Linked DNA regions of Homo sapiens. The protein of the gene in region 3 purifies or fractionates together with the protein of the main gene of each other region. This does not show direct contact. Each region holds a gene or a part of one and is shown on either strand. Other genes may lie near its edges.

Evidence for each region.
Region 1: the proteins of GFOD1 (region 3) and RALGAPB purify together in Homo sapiens (affinity purification with mass spectrometry; 4 studies listed by BioGRID and IntAct, with this or other methods). This does not show direct contact.
Region 2: the proteins of GFOD1 (region 3) and RALGAPA1 purify together in Homo sapiens (affinity purification with mass spectrometry; 4 studies listed by BioGRID and IntAct, with this or other methods). This does not show direct contact.

What each region holds. Positions count from the first base shown.
Region 1 is NC_000020.11:38,468,077-38,475,845, forward strand, and holds the start of RALGAPB (ral GTPase-activating protein subunit beta), read left to right. Parts: upstream 1-4,766; 5' UTR 4,767-4,993; intron 4,994-7,769. UniProt on the Homo sapiens protein: Non-catalytic subunit of the heterodimeric RalGAP1 and RalGAP2 complexes which act as GTPase activators for the Ras-like small GTPases RALA and RALB.
Region 2 is NC_000014.9:35,806,293-35,813,877, reverse strand, and holds the start of RALGAPA1 (ral GTPase-activating protein subunit alpha-1), read left to right. Parts: upstream 1-4,582; 5' UTR 4,583-5,042; coding exon 5,043-5,148; intron 5,149-7,585. UniProt on the Homo sapiens protein: Catalytic subunit of the heterodimeric RalGAP1 complex which acts as a GTPase activator for the Ras-like small GTPases RALA and RALB.
Region 3 is NC_000006.12:13,365,586-13,372,608, reverse strand, and holds part of GFOD1 (glucose-fructose oxidoreductase domain-containing protein 1 isoform 1 precursor), read left to right. Parts: intron 1-6,946; coding exon 6,947-7,023.

The sequences.
Region 1 (7,769 bases), on a different chromosome or scaffold from region 3:
CGGCCTCCCAAAGTGCTGGGATTACAAGTGTGAGCCACCGCTCCCGGCCTAATTTTTGTATTTTTAATAGAGACAGGGTTTTGCCTGTTGGCCAGGCTGGTCTCGGACTCCTGACCTCAAATGATCTGCCCGCCTGGGCCTCCCAAAGTACTGGGATTACAGGCGTGAGCCACTGTGCCCAGCCGGGTTTAATGCCTTTATAAAAAGCAGAAGAGACACCAAAGCTTCCTCTCTCCAACATGTGAGGACATAGCAAGAAGGCAAGTGGGGAAGAGGGCCCTCACCAGGAACCAAATAGGCCAGCACCTTGATCTTGGACCTCCCAGCCTCCAGAGCTGTGGGAAATAAACATCTGTTGTTTAGACTGTGGTACCCAGGCTGTAGTATTTTGTTATAGCAACCTGAGCAGACTAAGACAGAGGACATAGGCATGGCCAATCCTGGAGGACAGACTGACAGCTGATCCGGAGTCTGCCAAAGTGGTGAGGTGACTGCCCTGGAGTCAGCTGGGGAAGGGGTGCACAGGTAAAGGATGCCTGCCACACGTATCCCCCTCCCCAAGATCACCCTGGCTGCAATAAGCCAGAGGTGGTACTCTGGTCTGAAGACAGAGGTATAAGCCAAGGCATATATCCACTCAGGCAGCTCAAGCACAAGCATTTGCAGAGCCCAGATCCTTGAACTCGTGCTGTGTCCAAGTGAGTGAAAGCATGTCAGCAGCATTTCTGACAGCCTAATCTCATATAATCTAGTGAAAGAAATTCTACACCAGGCAGCAGGAGTGAGCTGCTTGCAAGGCTGCTCTCAGAACCAGATCTGGCCATGACGACTCCATAAACATGAATTCTGGAGCTTCTCAGGGCATCTGGTTGACCCTACATATGTGTGAGAGATGGGTAGGGGTAAGAGAGAGGGTTGGAGAGCACCCTGAAGAGGAGAAACAGCAAATGGGACCCACAGGGAAAGGACTTGGTCTGGAGCTCGGTTGCCCTACCTAGATGGCACCACTCACCCTAGCTAGTCCCAGCCACTGGAGAGAGACTTAGAAAATTTCAAGGTAGAAAATTGTGGTCAACAAGAGTCACATGGGATCTGGTCTAGACAGAGACACCCTTCCTAAATGGCATTGCTAGCCCCAGAAGGGCACTTACAAACTTTTGAGGAATACAGTCCAAAGTGCAGGACCCTCTTAAGGCACAGAGTCTGGCACAAGGGGCCTCACTTGCCTGAATCTAATGGTGTTACTACCATCAACCACTGGATACTATCCACTAAGAATTAACAGTAGGAGCAAGAAGGTGGGTTCAGCACTGAGCCAATGAAGTTTCTATCCGTCCCCTCATCCATCCATCCATCCATCCATCCATCCATCCATCCATCCATCCAACACATGTTCATTGAGCACTTAACACCATGCCAGTATTGTTTTAGGTTCAGGAAAACAGCAATGGGTCTGACCAACTATTTCTACCCCAAGCTGGTACTGCACAATTAAAAAAGAAGGAAAAATAAAACAAGAAAAAAATGGCCACAGACGTATCTCACATACAGCTGTTCATTTACAAACTTTTCTCAATTATGGTTCTTGAAAAGTGTTCCAATTACTGCGACTGTATACAATTTAACCCAAAACTTAGTGGTTGGGGTAAATGACAATGTTTATTTTACTCATGAATCTGCTATATGGACTGCTCAATATTTTTCATGGATCCACATCTCTTATGGGCTGCTCTCAATAGGGTTAGTTTGTCCCTGCTCAGCTTGGTGTCAGGTTGGGGTGGAGGCTTGAAGCCTGGGGGCTGGAATCATCTGAAGGCTTCCTCACTCATATGTCTGGCTATTGATGCTGACTGTCACCAGAAACTTAGCTAGGGCTGGTAGCTGGAACACCTCTTCATGTTTTCCTTATGTGGCTTGGGCTTCCTCCCAACATGGTGGCTGGGGTCCCAGAGTGAGCATTGTGATAGGGAGCAAGCCAGGTAGAAGCTGTGTCTTCTTTATGACCTAGCCCCAGAAATCACATAGCATCACTTTTGCCCTATTGGTTAGAATGGTCACAGACGCAGCCAGACTCAAGGAGAAGGAACATCAATCCCACTTCTCAGTGGGAGGAGTGTCGGTTACATCATAAGGAGAACCATGGGATGGATCATATAGATTGGTATGGCATCTCCCAGAATGATGCTTTCAGGGTAAATAAAACAAAAAAGACTGGTGTAGTGATCTTTGGAAAAAAGTCTGTCACAAAAGCTTATACCGCTGCTCCTCTTTTTTCCAATTCTGTGCCTTTCCAAACACACTATACACAATGATATTTTGACATTACAGTTCAGATGAAGACATTCCCCAGTTTAGTCGATGTTTCTAGTTAGAGATCATGCCGTGGAACAAATTTGAATTGTGCACTATGTTTGGAGATCCAAAATGTTTTACTATGTGTAGCATCTCATGTGTCTCTTAAGTTTATTGTACATGTGTGCTTTTCTCAAATGTTTCAAAGTGTTCTAATGTTTAGTCTTTAATTTTCCCTCAAGGTATATGTGCGTATGTGTGTTTTATTTTTATGTTTGTTTAAGTGAAGACTTCAAAAGTTTTAAAAAATTAGCAAAGAGTGCAGAAAAAACATATCTTTTATGCCAGGCACAGTGATGTGTGCCTTTAGTTCCAGCTACTTGGGAGGCTGAGGCAGGTGGATCGCTTGGGCCTGGGAGTTTGAAGCCAGCCTGGGCAACATAGCGAGGCCCTGTGTCTTAAAAAAACAAACCATCATTTAGAGAACCACTCACTTGCATCTCTCCTCCACCAACTTGCACCTAATATTAAATCTTGTCTTTCTGTCCAGAGCAGTAAGTCTTACTGCCTTACATGTTATGTAAAAACCATATTTTAAGCAAAATTATTTGTTTGTATAATTTTCTGTTGCATCAATATATTTTTTCTGTTAAAAATATTTAGGTGCCTTAGGCTGGAATTGAACACAATTTTGCCCATTTTAATTAATGGGAAAAATTTAACAGCTTTCCACTTAGAAGCAGAATTTCAGGAATGAATTGAAACCACTAGAAGGGTGATAGCTGTATTTTCATCATCTCCCCAAGGGCTTTGGGACAGCTTTCCCATCCTCTGTGCCTGTCACTTTTCCAATTCCCATCACCCGTTGTTCTTCCAGTTAGTCACCCCTCCCTTGTCTGTTACAGGGGTTCAGTATTAATTGTGTTAGAATGCATCTGGTTGCAAGTAACATAAAACTCAACAAACTCTGGTATATATAAGATCCCTCATCCCGATAAGACAGGAAGGTAGTACAGGGTTTGTGTAGCTGCTTGAGTATGACTTAAACAAACAGGCTCCTGTCTTTCTGCTCCACCTTCCTCAGCACAGCCCTCCTCATGGCCTCTAGGCTGCTGTGCTCCCAGGTGTTACCCAGTTCCAAGCATGAAGCAGGGGAAAAGTGAAGGACACAAACTTCTCCAAGGGAAGAAGGAAGGGAAGGTCTCCTTTGATACTTCTGCCTACATCTCAGTGGCCAGGACTTTGTCTCACTGCCACCCTTAGCAGCAAAGAAAGTTGAGAGTTGTGTGCTTTGCTTTTCAGCCCCTGTAGTATAGAAAGGCAAGGGAGTGGTTGAAATAGATCTTGAGTTAGCCAACTACATAATTTGTCACACTGTGTTTAATTGAAATGTATTGCTTGGATCCAGTGTCCTGGACATAGCCTCGTTCCTGTCCTAGCACATTCTTACCCTCCTTTTCCCTCTTCCTTCCTGTAGCTATTTTTCTGGGGGGTGAGGTGTGGTCTTGAGGAAACACTCTTCAGTTTTACCCTTTCTGTGAGGATACTAGTTCCCTTATCACTCATTCCTCCATAGTCTCTTCTAACTGAGGTGAGGAGTCAGAATCTTCTTTGCTCCCTTCTGCTTTTCAGACAACCGTGCCTTCACCTCTACTCAACACCCTGACCCCTCCTCCCTCTCTCAATACCCAAGGTCAGTCTCAAGGCCAGGTCCTCCGTGAAGAATTCCACCATCCCTCCCTCCTCTTCTTTCTCAGTCCAAGTTTCCTCCTTTAGATTCTCAAAGCACTTAAGCTGTACCTCTCCAATGGTATTATTTTCTTCGTTGAAGTGAAAGCAAATTATTGAAAGTGGTACTGTTTACAAAATGTCTAGCGCATGGCAGGTGCTCGAAGTAGTATCTCTTAGTATTATTACTACTGTCTTATCTCGATCAGATTCAGCTCTTTAATGAGAGGCTCTAAATCTTATGTTCGATTCACCTTTGTAACCCACACCGGGCCTGGAATAGAGCACTGTTCATAATTAATGCTGTGCCCGTGTAATAAGACGGCGGCGAGCAAAGGGCATCATTTCAGAGGAAGAGTGCTGTAATGGTGGGATGGGAGAAATTCCTAGAACCTAGGTGGGAGCCAGAATCTTGCAGAGAAGCCCCTTATCCGTCTGCACCGAAAGCAGGTAGAGTGGATGCCGTAAGATTCCTAAGGACGCAGGTAGAGCGCCTCCTCTGTGCCGCGATGAGGTAGGTGCATCCGTCACTTCACTCCTCCCTCTCCACTTGATCCGGAATGGGAGGAACGCAATGCGTCCCGCGCGGCGATCTGGGATAGCTGCGCAGGCGCAGCTTCCGGCTCTGTGTCTCGGGAATTATTTGACGCCACCGGTTCAGCCCCGTAGAAAGCTCTGATTAGGCGCACCGCGCACGCGCAGTGGCCCACTTGGCTGGGGAGTTATTTGACGCCGCCGCCCCTGGCAGTCGGAAGTTGCCTGAGCAGATCCCAGCCGGCTGGCTCGAGTGGCCTTCGTCGTCCCTTGGCGCCCTGGGAGAGTCGCTGACGGGTGGACTGACGGACCGCCTGAGGACGGCCGGCCAGGGCGGTGAAAGCGCCAGCCCTATGGCGCGGGTCGCGTGAGGCGGAAGGCCGAGGACGGCCGGCGGCGGCGCCCGCCCCGGCGATGCGGGCCCCGCCCGTCGCCTCAGGTAACCGGGCAGCCGGCCCCGCCGCGGCCGGACCCTCCCCTCTCCTTCCCTCTCTTCCCCACCTGGCGGTCAAGGGACGGCTGAGGCTTGTTTCTCGGCTCTGGGTGCTCCAGGGGCCCGGCCTTTGGAAGCTCATCTGCAAATTTTTGGGAGACCCACGGGGGCGGGGAAAGCTTGGCCCTGGAGTGGGCGGCTGCTGTCGAGTCTGTGTAAACCCGGTCTAATCCTTGGGAGCTACCCCGGCCAGGCGAAGCTCTCTCCTGGCAACCTGGGGGAGGGGGCGGGTCTGGAGCGGAGCTAGACAACTCCCGCAAAGAATTTGGTCCAGCAGAAAGGTTAGGCAAGTTGCTGCCGCCCAGTGGGGACGATGCTGCCCATTGCACAGTGACACTTTGATGAGGGAGAGTTGATGATGGGAGTAAACAGCTAACCCCCATTAAGCGCTTCTTATCCGCCAGGCATCATGCCAGGCCATTACGTTCTCCACGTCTAACTTCACAGCAACCCTGTGAGGTAGGATTGTTGTCCCCATTTTACTGACGAGGCAACTGAGTCCCTGGGTGGTTGGGTGACTTAATTACCCAAGGTCACATAGCTAGTAATTTGAACCGGAGCATCCGACCCAAGTGCTTAACAATTAGGGCAGTGGCTCTCCAACTTTGCTACACTGTAGAATCACCTGGGGGAAATTGTAAAGGTTTCTGATGCCCATGTGGCATCCCAGACCAAAACAATCAGAATGTCTGGAGTTGAAAGCCAGACTTCAATATTTTTTTTTTAAAGATGCCCAAGTGATTCCAGCTTGCAGCAAAGTTTGGGAACCGCATGTAATTTGATAATTCTGCATCTCAAAAAGCATCTCTCTTTCTCCAGCTTAAGTGTGCAGGAGAATTGTCTGGGAGCTTGTTAAACTTGCAGGTTCCACCCGCAGAGATCTTTAGGTTGACTGACCACTACACCTTGTGAAAGACTGTTAGGGATGGAATTCTCTGCAGGGATTCTGAGTCATCTGGAACATTTAAAATGTATGCATCTTATGCAAACTGCTCGTTTGCAATTTTCCTAAATATACAGTACTTATAGGTGTAGCGTCTGTAACCTCTGGGTCGTTTTTACATATGCTGGAAGTCTGCCTAGACCATCCTCTGAACGTTCTGGCCATCCCACCCAAACGCACACACTTCTGCTCTCTCCTATATGCATATACACACCCTTTTCTTTTCTTTCTTTCTTTTTTTTAGACAGAGTCTTGCTCTGTTGCCCAGGCTGGAATGCAGTGGCATGATCTTGGCTCACTGCAACTTCCGCCTCCTGAGCTCAAGCAGTCCTCCCACCTCAGCCTCTCAAGTAGCTGGGACTACCACGCTTGGCTAATTTTTGAATTTTTTTTGTAGAGATGGGGTTTCTCCATGTTGCCCAGGCTGGTCTCAAACTCCTGGGCTGAAGCAGTCCACCCACTATGGTCTGCCATAGTGGTGGGATTACAGATGCGAGCCACTGTGCCAGGCCTACATACCCTTTTCTTCCTGTCTCTGGCTGCATTAGCTTTAAGCATTCCCTTCAAGATACCTCTGTCCCTGACCCCTACCCACCTTGAGTCCTTCCAATTTGCTCTTTAGGAACATCGTAGTGAAACTTATCAGTTATTTTTCTGAGTTGTAGTTCTATCCCTACTTCTAGATTATGAGAAGCTTTAGGGCAGGGACTATGTTTTCTTCATCTCTGTATTCCTTCCAGTGCTTTGACATACAGACTCACAAAGCTTTTACTCAGTGGAATGTTTGGGTCCTTTTATGTCATAGATAGATCATGTTGCGAACAGATTCTTCTCTATTTCCATTTTTGTAAAAGATGTTTGGTAGTTCCCAGCTTATAGAGTTTTGTTCTTTTTGCTTAGGAGTGAGTATTCTAGTTATGTTCAGCAATTTGTCCAGCAGTTGAACACACACATTGAGTTCTTACCAATTGCAAGGCACTCTGTAACTAACCATGTGCAATCAACATTGTTTGATTTTTAATGTCTGATTCTATCACAATCGGACGCAATCATGTCTGTAGGGAAAGTCTTTTTATTACTGTTAGACCTTTGCATGTGTTCCCTACTTCATTGTCCAAAAAAGTGTTTAGTTGTCATCCACTAAATGCCACTGCCTTGTTGGTATTTGGTAAATACAAGCAGATGGGATTGCCATTGGTAATGTTTGGTCCTGTTCACCAGGAGAGAGGACGTTAAGTACTTAATGAAGAGTAAAATCATGTTGTCACAGGAATTGACAAATTTAGCACATATTTATTGCAGAATGCCTGAACTGCCATTGCCCCATTTGCCATATTTACAAGTTTAAAGGAAGGCAGACCAATAATTCAGATTGGATTTGTTCTTGGTTGGTCTTAAAACCATGTAAGGATTTGCAAAAGTTAGTGAATATGTGTGTGAAGGTCATTATGAGGAGGTTTTTGGACAATAAAGATTTTTTTTTGTATAGCAATTAAACATGACAAAGTATGTAGACTGAATTAAAAACACATTTCATAAAATTTTTTTTTTCTTTTTTTTTTTTTTGAGATGCAGTCTCGCTCTGTCCCCCAGGCTGGAGTGTAGTGGCGCAATCTCAGCTCACTACAACCTCCGCCTCCTGGGTTCAAACGATTCTCCTGCCTCAGCCTCCTGAGTAGCTGGGACTACAGGCACCCACCACCACACCTGGCTAATTTTTTTGTATTTTTAGTTGAGAGGGGGTTTCGCCATGTTGGCCAGGTTCATGTCGAACTGCTG
Region 2 (7,585 bases), on a different chromosome or scaffold from region 3:
TTCTATATGATACTGTAATTGTGGATACATGACCCTATGCATTTGCCAATACTCATAGAACTATTTTATAGCATGTAGAATGAACCTTAACGTATGCACATTAAAAGAAATCAGAGGATCCCACTGGAACACAAAATGTGACAAAATAATCAAACTGTATTATAAGTATGAAACAACCTCACTAAAGAAGGTGTAGAAAAAGGTACTTATTTGGGAATGAGTGGAATCTGTAAGACTAAAGACAAAAGAAAATGTACATATGCACGGTACTCTAGTTAATAAAGTTGTTTCTCATGGGAAAGTAGGTTAACAATTCTGATACTGTTATACATGTATACTGCAATAAAATAAGTAAATGTTTGGTATATGGTGGGAACCAAGTATCTTATTGTTGGAGTGGGAGTTTATAATAAGTAAAGGGAGAAGGGTAGAATGATTCATCTAGTAATGGATTAGAGTTGAGGCACCACATAGGTATTAATTCATGTTTAGCTTAATACAGATACAGATGGTTATGTACAGAAATATTTATAGGTATGTGTATATAGATGTGCTAGTAAACATATGTGTGCAGTTGGCCCTCTGTATCCATGAGTGCTGCATCTGTGGATTCCACCAACTAGGAATCAGAAAAAAATGGATGGTTACATCTGTACTGAACACACACAGACTTTTTTTTTCTTGTCATTATTCCCTAAACAATACAGAATACCAACTATTTACATAGCATTTACATTGCATTAGGTATTTTAAAGAATCTAGAGATGATTTGAAGTATATGGGTGGGGGTGGGGCACAGTGGCTTACACCTGTAATCCCAGCACTTTAGAAGGCCAAGGCAGGCGGATCGCTTGAGCCCAGAAGTTCAAGACCAGCCTGGGCAACATGGTGAAATCCCATCTTTACTAAAAGTCAAACAAATTAGCTGAGTGTGGTGTTGAGCCCCCAGGAGGCGGAGGTTGCAGTGAGCCAAGTTTGCACCACTGTACTCCAGCCTGGGTGACAGAGTGAGACTCTGTCTCAAAAAAAAAAAAAAAAAAAAAAAAAAAAAAAAAAAAAGAATAGTTTCACCACCCTAAAAAATATCCCATCCTTCACCTATTCAATCTTCTTCTCCCTCCCCTCAATCCTCTTGCAACCACTGATCTTTTTACTATTGCTATAATATTGCCTTTTCCAGAATGTCATATAACTAGAATCATACAGTATGTAGCATTTTCAGACTGGCTTCTTTCACTTAGCAATATGCATTTAAGTGTCATACATGTCTTTTTGTGGCTCAAGAACTCATTTCTTTTTATTGCTGAATAATATTCCATTGTATGGATGTACCACAGTATGTTTATTCATTTAACTACTGAAAGATATCTTGGTTGCTTCTAGTTTTTGGAGTTAGGAATAAAATTGCTATAAACATTTGTGTGTAGGCCAGGTGTGGTGGTTCATGCCTGTAATCTGTAACCCCAACACTTTGGGAGGCTGAGGTAGGGGGATCCCTTGAGGCCAGGAGTTAAAGACCAGCCTGGGCAAAATAGTGAGACCTTGTCTCTACTAAATTTTTTTTTTTTTTTTTTTTTTTTTTTTTTGTGAGATGGAGTTTCGCTCTTGTTGCCCAGGCTGGAGTGCAATGGCACGATCTCAGTTCACCGCAACCTCCGCCTCCCAGGTTCAAGTGATTCTCCTGCCTCAGACTCCCGAGTAGCTGGGGTTATGGGCACGCGCCACCACTCCTGGCTAATTTTGTATTTTTAATAGAGAAGGGGTTTCTCCATATTGGTCAGGCTGGTCTTGAAATCCTGGCCTCAGGTAATCCACCTGCCTCGGCCTCCCAAAGTGCTGGGATTACAGGAGTGAGCCACCACGCCTGGCCATCTACTAAATTTTTTTTTAATTAGCTGGGCTTTTTGGCACCTGCCTGTGTTACCAACTGCATGGGAGGCTGAGGTGAGAGGATTGCTTGAGTCCAGGAAGTTAAGGCTAAAGTGAGCTGTGACTGCACCACTGCATTCCAGCCTGGATGACAGAGCAAGACCCAGTCACTAAAAGAAAAAAAATCTAGTTCTCACAAGCAATATATATATATATATATATATATATATATTTTTTTTTTTTTTTTTTTTTTTTTTTTTTTTTGAGACAGAGTCTCACTCTGTCAACCAGGCTGGAGTTCAGTGGTGCAATCTTGGCTTACTGCAACCTCCGCCTCCTGGGTTTAAGCAATTCTCCTGCCTCAGTCTCCTGAGTGGCTGGGATTACAGGCGTGCCCCACCACGCCTGGCTAATTTTTTTGTATTTTTAGTAGAGACGGGGTTTCACCATGTTGGTCAGGCTGGTCTTGAACTCTCCTAACCTTGTGATCCGCCTGCCTCGGCCTCCCAAAGTGCTGGGATTACAGGCATGAGCCACCGTGCCTGGCCCTCACAAGCAATATTTCAAAGGTATATTTCTGGGTTTTATTTCCATGATAATTATGTCTGCTGTGGGGAAGACTTATCTTTCAAAGAATTTTAATATTTAAATCAATGGGAAGAGAAAAACCAGGCAGTGGGATGGGTGTGCCATATGTAAATTACATTATACTAGTTTGTTTTGCAATGGTGTTTTCATTTTTTCTCAGGTATACCAGCCATATAATTATTTTTAACGATATGTTACATTTTTATTCTCTAAAATTATGTCACTCATTTGCCAAACATTTACTGAGTACTTGCGCAAGAGAAAGGAAGGGACAGTGACATTCGTTCTTCTATTCGACACAGATTTATTGAGCCTATCTTGCAAAGAGCACTTTGCAAGAAGACTGGGATACAACTTTAGACAATCTATACAGTCTCTGTCCTCAGGGAGTTTACAGTCTCATGAAAGAGAGAATCTGTAAACAGTTACACAAATTACTGTATTTAAATTCTATGAAGGAAAGGAATGTTATGAGATGTGTCATTATAGATGTAACTTTCAATACTTTTCTCACCTAATTATCACAATCACTGATGTAGTTTACAAATGAGGAAAATCAGGCTGAGACTGAACTACATGCCAAGGGCCCGAGAGCAAGTAAGTCCTTGCAAGTGAAAAACAGAATGTCTAATTTAGGTCTATGTAATTCTAAAGATCATGCTTGAAAACATTGTATTATTGCCTAAATTTCACGAAACTGTGAGGGACAGACCTTATTTTGATTTTATTAATAAGAAAACTGATGCTGAGAGGAACTAGAACTAAAATCTCTTGAACAATCCCCTTATTTTTCTATTATGTTATAAGCTTCCTCAAAACATGTATGGCTTGTAAGTTTGATGATACAAACAAACCCTACATGTAGAAACTGAATAAATTTTTTGTACTTTAAAAAATATAGGATTGTTGTTGAAACAAACTACCATTAAGCAAAGCACTATATTTTAACATAATTTTGGCAAATGTCTTACATCTCTCTTCTTTGCTGATTTTGTTATTTTTCTATGTTAATCACATATTTCATTGGACAAGTCTATTGCTATGGGTGAGAACATAGAAGGAAACAGTTCAAACAAGCAAACTCACTCTTTATCAAATTATTTTGTGGAGGAAATGTTCCTGGCCAGGCGCAGTGGCCTCACGCCTGTAATCCCAGCAGTTTGGTAGGCTGAGGCGGGCGGATCACTTGAGTCTAGGAGTTTTAGACCAGTTTGGGCAAAATGGCGAAACCCCGTCTCTACAAAAAACACAAAAATTAGCTGGATGTGGTGGCGCGCACCTGTGGTCCCAGCTACTCGGTAGGCTGAGGTGGGAGCATCACCTGAGCCTGGGAGTTCGAGGCTTCAGTGAGCTGAGATCACACCACTGCACTTCTGCCTGGGACACAGAGACCCTGTCTGGAAAGAAAAGGAAAAAGGAAAAAAAAAAAAAGGGTTCCAATAAAAATTTCAATTTATGTCATTCAGAATTTCACGGATTTTTTTCAGCTATTGCAGATTCTTCAGATGACTCCATCAATGTAATAAGAACCTTGAATTCTTCTTTGCAGAGGAAAAACTGACAATATATTCATCTTTATGTGGGGTGCAGATGGGGAAAAGATTTTTAAAAGCACAATAGAAAAGGAAAGCAAGATTACTTTTATTTAAAAAACCTAGATACCTCTGCTTAAGCCTTTCTGTTGTCAAGTTGTTTGCAGCAAAAAACAGGGATATTGCAAATAGAAAAAATATGAAAGAAATCACATACATAGTGCAGGAAATATTATTAGTAATAGATTTAGGACAGAATAAATTGCCCAACTGTAACTTCGTTTATCTTTCTGCTAGAGGATCTGGTGGCCACAACAACTTATGCACATTTTCAAAGATAAATCATGGACATATTTAATAAAGATTACTTCTCTTTGCTTATTACTATCATTTGGCTTACAATGGAGCACGCAGTAACTACCTTCCTTGCCTTTCTTGAGATTCTCCTTTGGCTGCTTACACAGGAAACCAAGGCGGGGAGTGCCACGGGTGATCTCATGCTGGCATGACGTCAAGAACTCTTGACGTCAGAAGGCGGTTGCCACGGACACCGTTCGCCACCGACGGCAGAGTCGTGAAACCCCATCACTACCACACTCGTCTCCGTTTCGGCCTCTGCAGGGTGTAAGCTGCTAAAGAAGCTTCAACCTTAAGGGGGCCTCAGGGAGAGAGTTGTGCTCCTGCCGCCGAGAGCTCCACCTTCGTGGCTCTGGGTCCGGGGCCCCGGCCTGTGGCGGCGAGCGGCGGCCGCTGGAGACGAGCGGCGGCGGCAGGCGGCCAGCCCGGGTCTGCCTCGCTCCGTGCAGGGCCGGGAGAGGGATCCGCCATATTGGAGCTGGGGCCGAAGGTGCCTTGGAGCCGCGGCGCGAGGCGGGTGGAGGTGGCGGCCCTGGCCTGGATCGGGAAGGAGTCGGCTCTGCCCTGGCCCGCAAGGCTGGGGAGCTAATGAGCCTCTCTGGCTAGTCTCCTCCCCGTCCACTCCCTCCACTTTCTGCCGCCGGGACCCGGCTGGGAGCCGGCTGTGGCAGTGGCAGTGGCAGTGGCAGCGACAGGATGTTCTCCAAGAAGCCGCACGGGGACGTGAAGAAGTCCACCCAGAAGGTGCTAGACACCAAGAAGGACGCACTGACTCGCCTCAAGCACCTGCGCATCGTCATCGGTGAGGAGCGAGGGGTGGCAGCGCCGAGGCCTGGGTTGCCCGGCCTTCCCTCTCCTGGGAGCCCCTGCGGACTCTCTCTCGGGACCTGGCGCGGTGCAGGAGAGGGCAAATCGTAGCCTCTGCGGAGACGCGGGAGGGTGAATAATTCGGAGAAGCGAAAACTTGGCAGTTGGCAGCACTGATTACTGTTAACACAGTAATCTAATTTTGAGTTAATAGTCTGAACTTATTTTTTAAAATTGGTATTACTCTAAAAACTTAGATCTTTAAGACTTTGTGGGGAGACCTGGCGTTGTGGATAATGGTGTTTATAGGATATGTTTGCCAGATGACTACTGCCAACCCCACCCAAGTAAAAAGAAAAATAAAATCCTCTCTCAGACAATATAAACCTTAATCTTTCAAGTTTCTTGGCAGATGAAGACAAGGAGGTAGCAGTTACACCTCTTTGGGAAGTGGGCGGTTCCCAAAAAGCTGTGGGAAGGAGCCCCGCCCTTTTGTTAATGCACCTTGTTCATCACTAGTCATTTAGAGGGAGAACTATTATAGGTAGTTTAACTCATCCTTTGCTTCTCGAGAATTGTATATAATTCTATTTTTAATTAAAAATATTTTTTTTATCGTCTGCCCTTAAGTTCTGTTTTGCTGGTAGACCAAACAGTGCTCTAAGTTTTGAATATAATGTTAATCGACTCTTTTGAATACTTAGTCATTTGGTAGGCTGATAAAGGCTGTAATAATACTTATGGAACATCTGGTCCAGTAGTTGGATTTTTTAGATGAAGACATTTGAGATGAAAAGGAAAATTATTTCGCCTGTGTTGATACTTAGAGTTAATGGTGGAACTGGCTGAAGAAGATGCATTCATCCAGATGCCTGAATCCTAGTTCAGAGTTTATCTCGAGCTGTCCTCCTGATGCGTATTTGTTTTGGAAAGTGATGTTTATTTAGTGAAAAAAGTAAGTCCCTTATTTGAGGTACATGTTTCTCTAGTCTATTGTTTACTCATACCACCAGGATACCACCAATATTACCCAACATTTCTATGATGCTTTACTGTTTACAGTGATTTCACGTAAATTATGATAATCCTTGCAATAACTCTATAGGTAGATGATATTATTCTCCATTTTTTACCAACAAAAAAGCTGAAGTTTGGGAACATCGAGTAGTCAGCCAGCTACCAGGAGGCTGAGTCAGAATTGGAACCCAGATTTTGTGTCTCTAGTTTGTTTTTTTACTCTTTCTACATTTATGACAGCTAATCTTTGTCACAAGTAAATTGTATTTATTCCAGTGGAGTAGTAAGAAAGCAGTTAATCCAGTTTAGCGCTATAAAAAGCTCAGTTTTCAAGAAAATGTAAAGCTTCTAAATATAGTGGAGATTGTGATCTTTTTGTTTTCATTCTTCTTGAGAGTTAAGCCATTGAAATAAAGATTTAGCCGAGAATAGGACACAGTAAGTTAATGTGTGAATGCAGGCGAGGGATTCACAGGTAATGGCAGTTTGAAATTGAACACTTAATGGAGCTTGACACCTACTTGGGATAAGCTGTAGGTTAGGTAATGACACAGCTATAAAGTTGAGTTCCAATAAAGTATCGAGATTTCCTAAATTAAAGGCCATACTTTATTTATAGACTGGTTAAGGAATTATTTATATATACTTTTTTGGCATAGAGTTTTTTTCCATCTGGCAGACATGGAAAATTAAAAGGTAAATTAAGAGAGAGGTCACACATATAAGGCATTTTGTAGGACTTAGCTTGCTTGGTTTGAAAACAAAACAAAACAAAAACAAGTCTTTTATTGTTGTCGTTATTTTGTTTGAAATACAGTTAATGTAATTTCTAAGAAAATGAATGAGAGAAAGTAGAATGACAAAAACTAGTGTCTTTTAGAGGTCTGCCAATCAGGTATTTGATTTTGCAGATGGAAAATCCTTTCTGGAAGTAGGTGCGGGCTTTAAATAAGGTAAACACAATGAGGAAACTAGTTTGCAGAGTAATTGGGCATTGCCAGTTACACAGGCTTTTGATTTTTGTTTGGTCCCATAGTTCATAGTTCATATGGGACCAAACAGAACTGCCATTCACTCAGGGTACTTATGGGAGGATTCAGTGCATCTATATGTATGAGAACATAATCATAATTTAAACATCCGCTGTAAACTTTTTTCCTGGCATGTGTTCCCACTGTAGGACAATCCAAGTTAAATTTATAGAACTTGACTCTGAAGATTTAGATTTAAATCTGGTATGTTTATTGATACTGTTGCATAATTGATTTGTAAAAACTAGAAGTCAGGGTTTTCTTAAAACAGAAAAAAAAGCCTTGTCTGATTTCTAAAGCTGTTATCCTTTCTACCTACCCCCTCCCCCCCATTTTACAACTAATGGTAATGATATTATAAATTAGCACATGTAAATTGGCTAA
Region 3 (7,023 bases):
AGAGGTGTGAATGGGAAGCCCCTTGCCCAGACTCCCAGGGGTACCATTTGGATCAAGTGTCAGCCCCACCAAAGCTCTGATCTGTCCTGAGATAGGAGCAGAGACTCAGCCACAACTTGGAGACCCTGAGCTTGGAGGATATAAGGGGAGCAGCTGCCTGAAGGGCTTTAGGGTCTCTGGGCTGGAAACTCTTCCCTATAGCACAGATTTCTCAGGAGGGCCATGAATATTTTGGCTCGGTTACAGAGAACACATTCAGCAGGCTTCGGAGGGAGCTGATTTTCCATTTCCCCATGAGGGATCTCAGGAGGGCAGTAAAGCTTCTTCTGAAATTATTTAACTTAAAAGCTTCTGATGAAGATCAGGCACACTGCCTTGCACATAGCACTCTAACCCGTCAGAAGTTTCCCACGGATCTCATTTTGCTCCTAATTACAGCACGGCAACATAGGTTGGAAGGTATCTCTCAGCTCCACCATTTTAAAGACAGATAGCTTCGCTTTATTTGCTGCTGAGAGGATATTGTCTTAAAATTTTAAGTTGGTTCAAGCCCCAAAGCCTTCAAAAGACCCAGCTTTAGCTCTTTGTTCTCACACAAAGGGCTGCCTGGTCTTTGTGGAGTGAGTTGTGAAGGCCTCCCCAGAAGACTCAGGCCAGTCCTCGTGTGCTTTCTGCCACTCACCCGTGGTCACACTGCATCACATTGACAGATGCGGCAACCCTCCAAGACAGCCATTTCTGGATGCAGGGACAGAGCCCTCAGGGGGGCGAGCTGAGCATGGAGCCGTGGCGTGATGGTTCACAGTCCTGGATGGATGCAGCAGAGTGACCCTCACCCATCATACCCGCATGTGCACAGAAAGCCCCTCCCGTTCCTCTACCACCATTGAGAGCACCAGGGGACTTTGCCAGACCTCTCCCACCACTTGGGAAATGTTTGGGGCTTGGCAAAACACAAAACATACTTTCTCAGGCACTTCTTGTTTTCATGGTTTTCATTTTTCACTGCCTGTTAATCTGGAGTGAAATAGAGTCCATATGTTCCAAGTCCCTTTGCCTAATTCTCTGCAGCATGATTTTTATCTCTGAAATTGTTTGAAGTCCCAAAGTTTTTGATCTTTTTGCCTCAGAAAGTGGGCACCACATTTTGCCACAAGAGGATGTAAACCTGAGACCTAAAGAACGTGTGTTGGCCTGGTGCTCCCAGAGGTGTGTGGACTCAGCATGGGACAAGTGGCTCCCTTGTCTTTTCAGGGAAGTTGTTCACCTAGGAGTAAGAAAGTGCAGATGGCCTCCTTAGGCTGTGCACAGTGACCTAGGGCAGTATTCTTTTCTCATGGCAAAAGGGGGAAAGCCTTTGTAGGTTTCTCCATTAGGAAATTAGCCATGGCTGTAAAGGGCTTATAAGAAAACAGGGCCTCTGCCTCTGCCTGAACCCCTCATTTTCTGTCTTCCCGGTAGAATCTACTTACCCTCAAGTCAAAGAAATGTCATAGCCACGTGCTTAGAGAAGAGTGCAAGACTGCCTCTACTTATTTCCTACATTAAATGGGAGAGAGTGCTTTTCTCTAAAGAGCCATTTTGGTGCTTTCTCCTATGCTAAGACAGATGATTGTCATGAGAAGATCAAATACCTGTGGTATTTGCTGGAGAGCCGAGTCCAAAGCCCAGGCTGACAGACAGGCAGTTTGCAGAACAGGTACCTGTGTGCTTTCTTCGGGAGAAATCCCAGCATACAGTGAATGGCATCTGACACACCCAGGATTGTGGGGTATGTCAACCACACACTCAGACAATGCAAGTTCCCTTTACGTTGCACGTGGTTTTAGGGATGAGAGGAATGCTCTGTGCCACACTAATCCACCTACACACATACATACATACACACACACACACATAAACACATATACACACACACACAGTGTCTGACTAGAAGTCTATACTTAGAATTGTGCTCCTTTAGCAAGAACCTTTTGATAGCGAAGATTTGGGTGGGGAAAAGCTGGAAAAAGAAAAAACCTGAGGATCTTGAGGATCTCAGAGTGGGCTTTTCAGAAGCCCACCGAGAGAGGTAGGGTAAGGGAAGACTGTCCAGAATGCAGAGAAAACAAACTTTGCTTAGCAATTCGTGAAGGGTCTGCTGGCTCTGCGTTTTGGGTTCCTTTTGGAACTGGAAGGATTATCTTATTTTTAACAATATGTCCCAAAGCCTTTAAGAATTTATTGTGAATGTATGATGATGCCTGGGCCTCAGAACCGGAGGGGATCCGTGCATGGGCTTCAGGTTGTGGCAGAGTTTTGTGCATCTGTCTGAGTTGCATGTTTTGGAGAGAGAGTCCACAGCTTTCAGTAAGAATCATAAAGAGGTCTTGAGCAAATGGAGCAAGAAGACCTGGCAACAGAGCCCGGGCTTCTGAAGCTTTCAAGATTCAGGGTCAGCAGAACCTTCTACCAGCTCTCTGGGGCTCAGGAACTGGGATGGGCCCATGAGAGCTGGGACCTGCCAGCTCCCCTAGACTTTGGAGGACCCTTTTTCCATTATTGTGAGTGCTGTCCTTCAAAGGTCTTCCTGTCTCTTTGTGGATTTTTTTAATTAGCTTTTTTTTTCTGACCATAAAATTACAAATTTAGAAAATATGGAAAAATGTGAAGAAAATAAAATCAATCATAATCCTACTAATCCAACCACTCCTACTAATCAGAGTAAACCTCCTAGGGTTTTTCTTTTTCTTTTGTCATTTCAGAGAGGGTTGAGATCATATATGTCTATGAATAGAGCCCTTTTCATTTAACATTACATCATAATCATCTTACTTGCCATTGAAAAGTCTCCATAAGCATCATTTTCTATGGTTGCACAATATTCTATTATATGGCTGCATGACAGTTGACTTAACCCTTTTTCTGTTGGGTATTTGCGTTGCTCATAGTTGTTTTGTTTTTTGTTTTGAGACAGGGTCTCACTGTCACCTAGGCTGGAGTGCAGTGACACAGTCATAGCTCACTGCAGCTTTAAACTCCTGGGCTTAAGTGATGCTCCCACCTCAGCCTCCTAAGTAGCTGGGACTACAGGCATGCATCACCACGCCTGGCTTTTTTTAAGAAATGGGATCTTGCTATGTTGTCCAGACTGGTCTCAAACTCCTGGCCTCAAGTGATCTCCCCAAAACTCCAGAATTATGGGCGTGAAGCCACTGCATCCAACCTCTGTTCCCAGTTTTTTGCTATAATAAATAATGCAGTCAAAACTATCTTTGGGCAAGAAGCCATGCTTGCATATTGGATTAGTTCTTTATGAGAAATTCCTAGAAGTCTCGTTTGACTTTTGAAGATATCGTGTGTTAAGATGTTGCCGAGACCCATCTGTAAAGCATGAATGTTGCAAAAGACTGTGGGCACAAAGGTGGGGCAGGCAACAAGGTTTGCTGGGTTCCTGCTGCACACTGGATGCACCACAGGGTGCTGTGGGTATTAATGGAGACTTAAGCATTAAACAACCCAGCCCTTATCCTTGAGGGCCTTACTGTATAATGTGGAGCCATATCATATATATTAGGTTGGTGCAAAAGTAATTGCAGTTTTACCATTAAAAAGAGGGCACCACAATTACTTTCAGTGGTAAAACCACAATTACATTTGCAGCAACCTAATAAATAGCCTGAAGGGATGTGTGTGTCTCAGATCCCTGGGGAATCCACATGTGAGTCTCAGGGTGGAGTTGCATTTTTGTATATCATGTCATGTTCATTTTACATCTTCTGGAGCTTTCATCAAAATCTCTTTATCTATGGAGCTGCAAAGAATTCCATGCAATCATTGTTTTGGGTGTGTAGGGAAGGGGTGTGGATCATTTTTCTCTAATTATTCTTCTTTTATTATTTTATTTTATAGTTTTTATAATAGAAAAAAATAAAAACCTTTTCTTAAGTGCCATTAATATGACCAATAGCGTATACTAAGCAGATGGCAGTCAGGATCCTGCTTTTGGGGACCTTGAAATAGGGTGTAGTAGAGGCCAGAGCCTACACCCAATGGGTGTGAGGCAGATTTTGGCAGTATTTATCACCTGTCCCTGCAGTGACCTACCGCTGCATTTACATATAAATCTGTTCCTGGTAGCATGAGCTGGTGTTAGATGAGCCTTATGCCTACGGGATCATATTGTCAGAACATAATGTTACACAGGTGTGTGGCACTTTTGGCGATACAAACCAATGTTATCTTATCTCTCTGCCGGAGCCTCAGTCCTCATCTGGTTGCTAAGCACTAAAAGAGCTTCTCACTGCTATTTCATGGCCATCAGGGGCACCAGCCCAGCTCTGCCAACATAGAAGAAAAGGCAAGGAGGTGTGGTCATTCTGTAGGCTCCAGGCTTTTCACTCAGGGCCAGAACTAGATGTGCACGTGGAAACTGACAGCCATGGTTTGTATTTCCTTTCTCCAATCTGTACCGACCAGTTCTAGGATTTGGCTAGCTCTTCCACTGGGAAAATGAGAAAGCCATGTGCCAGGCTGTGGCCCTGGACAGACATCTGCAATCTCACGACTTCTACAAAACCCCATCTTAGCTCAGCACGTTGTAAGTGTTCGTGGATTTTGTCAATTGAGTGTCTGTAGTCAGGACAAGTGGGATAGGGTGGCGTGTGTCTCATCACCCCATTTCTCTTGGGGTCTCTCCCACATCTGCGGCTGGAGTGCCCAGGTCTCCATTAGAGGGTCTATGGGTGAGCATGCCTAGACCACAGAGACCTGCCCCAGGACAGGTGCTTTGACTCCCAAGTCTTTTTGCCTAGCGTCTGTTTTATCTGACTTGCTAACAAATCTGTGTCATTCTTTTTTTTTTTTTTCTTGCCCTCCAGTTGGCTGTTTCTCCAGGTCCAGCTGAGTTGTTTTTCTTCTTCCCTGACTCTTGGCTTCCATGAAATAAATCCCTTTCTCATTCCCTGCCACTCTCCTTTCCTTTGATCCTTTGTTTTCCCCAGACCCAGAACCACTTAGTCTCCTAAAGGGCTCAGAGAGGCATTTTGGTCTCTGTGTAATTTATACACACATCACAGTCATCACATAAGACTAAATCTTATTTGGCCTGACCTCCACTGGCCAAAAGCAACATACCCCACCCTGAAGCAGATGGGGGTCGGGAAGGAAGCAGGCACTGCCAACTCCTCAGATTTAGGTGATATCCGCTCTTTGTAGGAAAAGAAAAACGTTAAACGAACACATCTGTGACCACTGCCAGCCCTAATCCAGAATGCAAAATAAACAAGCATGATAATGCTCAAAATACAATCCTGGGGAATTGTGAGGGGTGGAGAGGGGAAGACATTAGCCAAAAGCTTAGACCTTCAAAGGGTATCAATAAGAAGTTCTTCAGACTTAATTAGACTTACCTTGGCTAGGATTTAAGTTTATGTATTCTTATTCTGTCCAAATACAGGCACTCTTCTCCTTTCACTATATGATTTTTAATAATAATACACTTTTACTAAAAATGATATTTTAAATATAAAATACAACATATCAAACATTTTATATATATGATAACTGTAACAATATATTTTATATGTAAAAAGATTATATTGTATACTTTAATAGTACTATCTAATATTTTGTATTTAAATAACATAAAAGCAAAATCTATTTCTGTTTAAAATGTTATAGGTTTATATAAATAAAATATAAAATGAAGCATTTTATACTACCTTAGCAAATATTGTTAAACATTTCTAAAATATAGGTTACTTAAATATCTTAAAATAAACCTTACTATTTAAATCAATACCAGACATTTAACATTAAAATTAAGTAAGTCATGGCCTTTTGGGACCAGGACACCTGTAATCCCAGCACTTTGGGGACTTAGAGGGTAGGGGACCACTTAAGACCAGGAATTCGAGACCGGCCTGAACAATATAAGGAGACCCCTGTCTCTTAAAAAAAAATTGGAGACCCCATCTCTTTTAAAAAAAAAAAATGGCTGGGCGCAGTGGCTCACGCCTGTAATCCCAGAACTTTGGGAGGCTGAGGTGGGCGGATCATGAGGTCAGGAGTTCCAGACTAGCCTGGCAAACATGGTGAAACCCCATCTCTACTAAAAATACAAAAATTAGCTGGGCATGGTGGCGGGCGCCTGTAATCTCAACTACTCGGGAGGCTGAGGCAGGAGAATCGTTTGAACCCAGGAGGTGGAGGTTGCAGTGAGCCGAGATGGTGCCATTGCACTCCAGCCTGGGTGATAGGGTGAGAATCCATCTCAAAAAAAAGTTTAGCTAGGTGTGGTGGCACCTACTGTCTTAGCTACTCAGGAGGCTGAGGCAGGAGGATTGCTTGAGCCCAGAGATTTGAGGCTGCAGTTAGCTATGATCGCACCACTGCAATGCAGCCTGGGGAACAGTGAGATTCTGTCTCAAAAACAAACAAACAAAAAACAACAAATTAAGTAATGCAACATAAATATTTAAAGTAATATTGAAATATATAGAATATCTTTTTTATTTTCATTATTTTTTATTTTTTGAGACAGAGTCTTGCTGTCCCCAGGCTGGAGTGCAGTGGCCAGAACATAGCTCACTGCAGCGGCCAGAACATAGCTCACTGCAGCCTCAACCTCCTGGGCTCAAGTGATCCTCCCACTTCGGCCTCCTGAGTAGCTGGGACCACAGGCGTGCACCACCACGCCCGGCTCATTATTATTATTATTATTATTATTATTATTATTATTATTATTATTGAGACAGGATCTCTCTGTGTTACCCAGGCTGGCCTCCAACTCCTGGGCTCAAGGCCTCCTCCGGCCTTGGCCTCCCAAAGTGCTGGGACAACAGGCATGAGCCACCACATCTGACCTTCTTTTTCTATTAATGTGAAATATTTTAAGATCTGACCCAGGGACGCGCGCTCGGACATGGTCCTGCCCCGCTGACCGCTGTCTTCCTCCCACCCGCAGGCATCGGCAAGAACGTCATCTGCGACCGCACGGCCACGCCGCTGGACGCTTTCCGCATGACCTCGGCCGCCCACTAC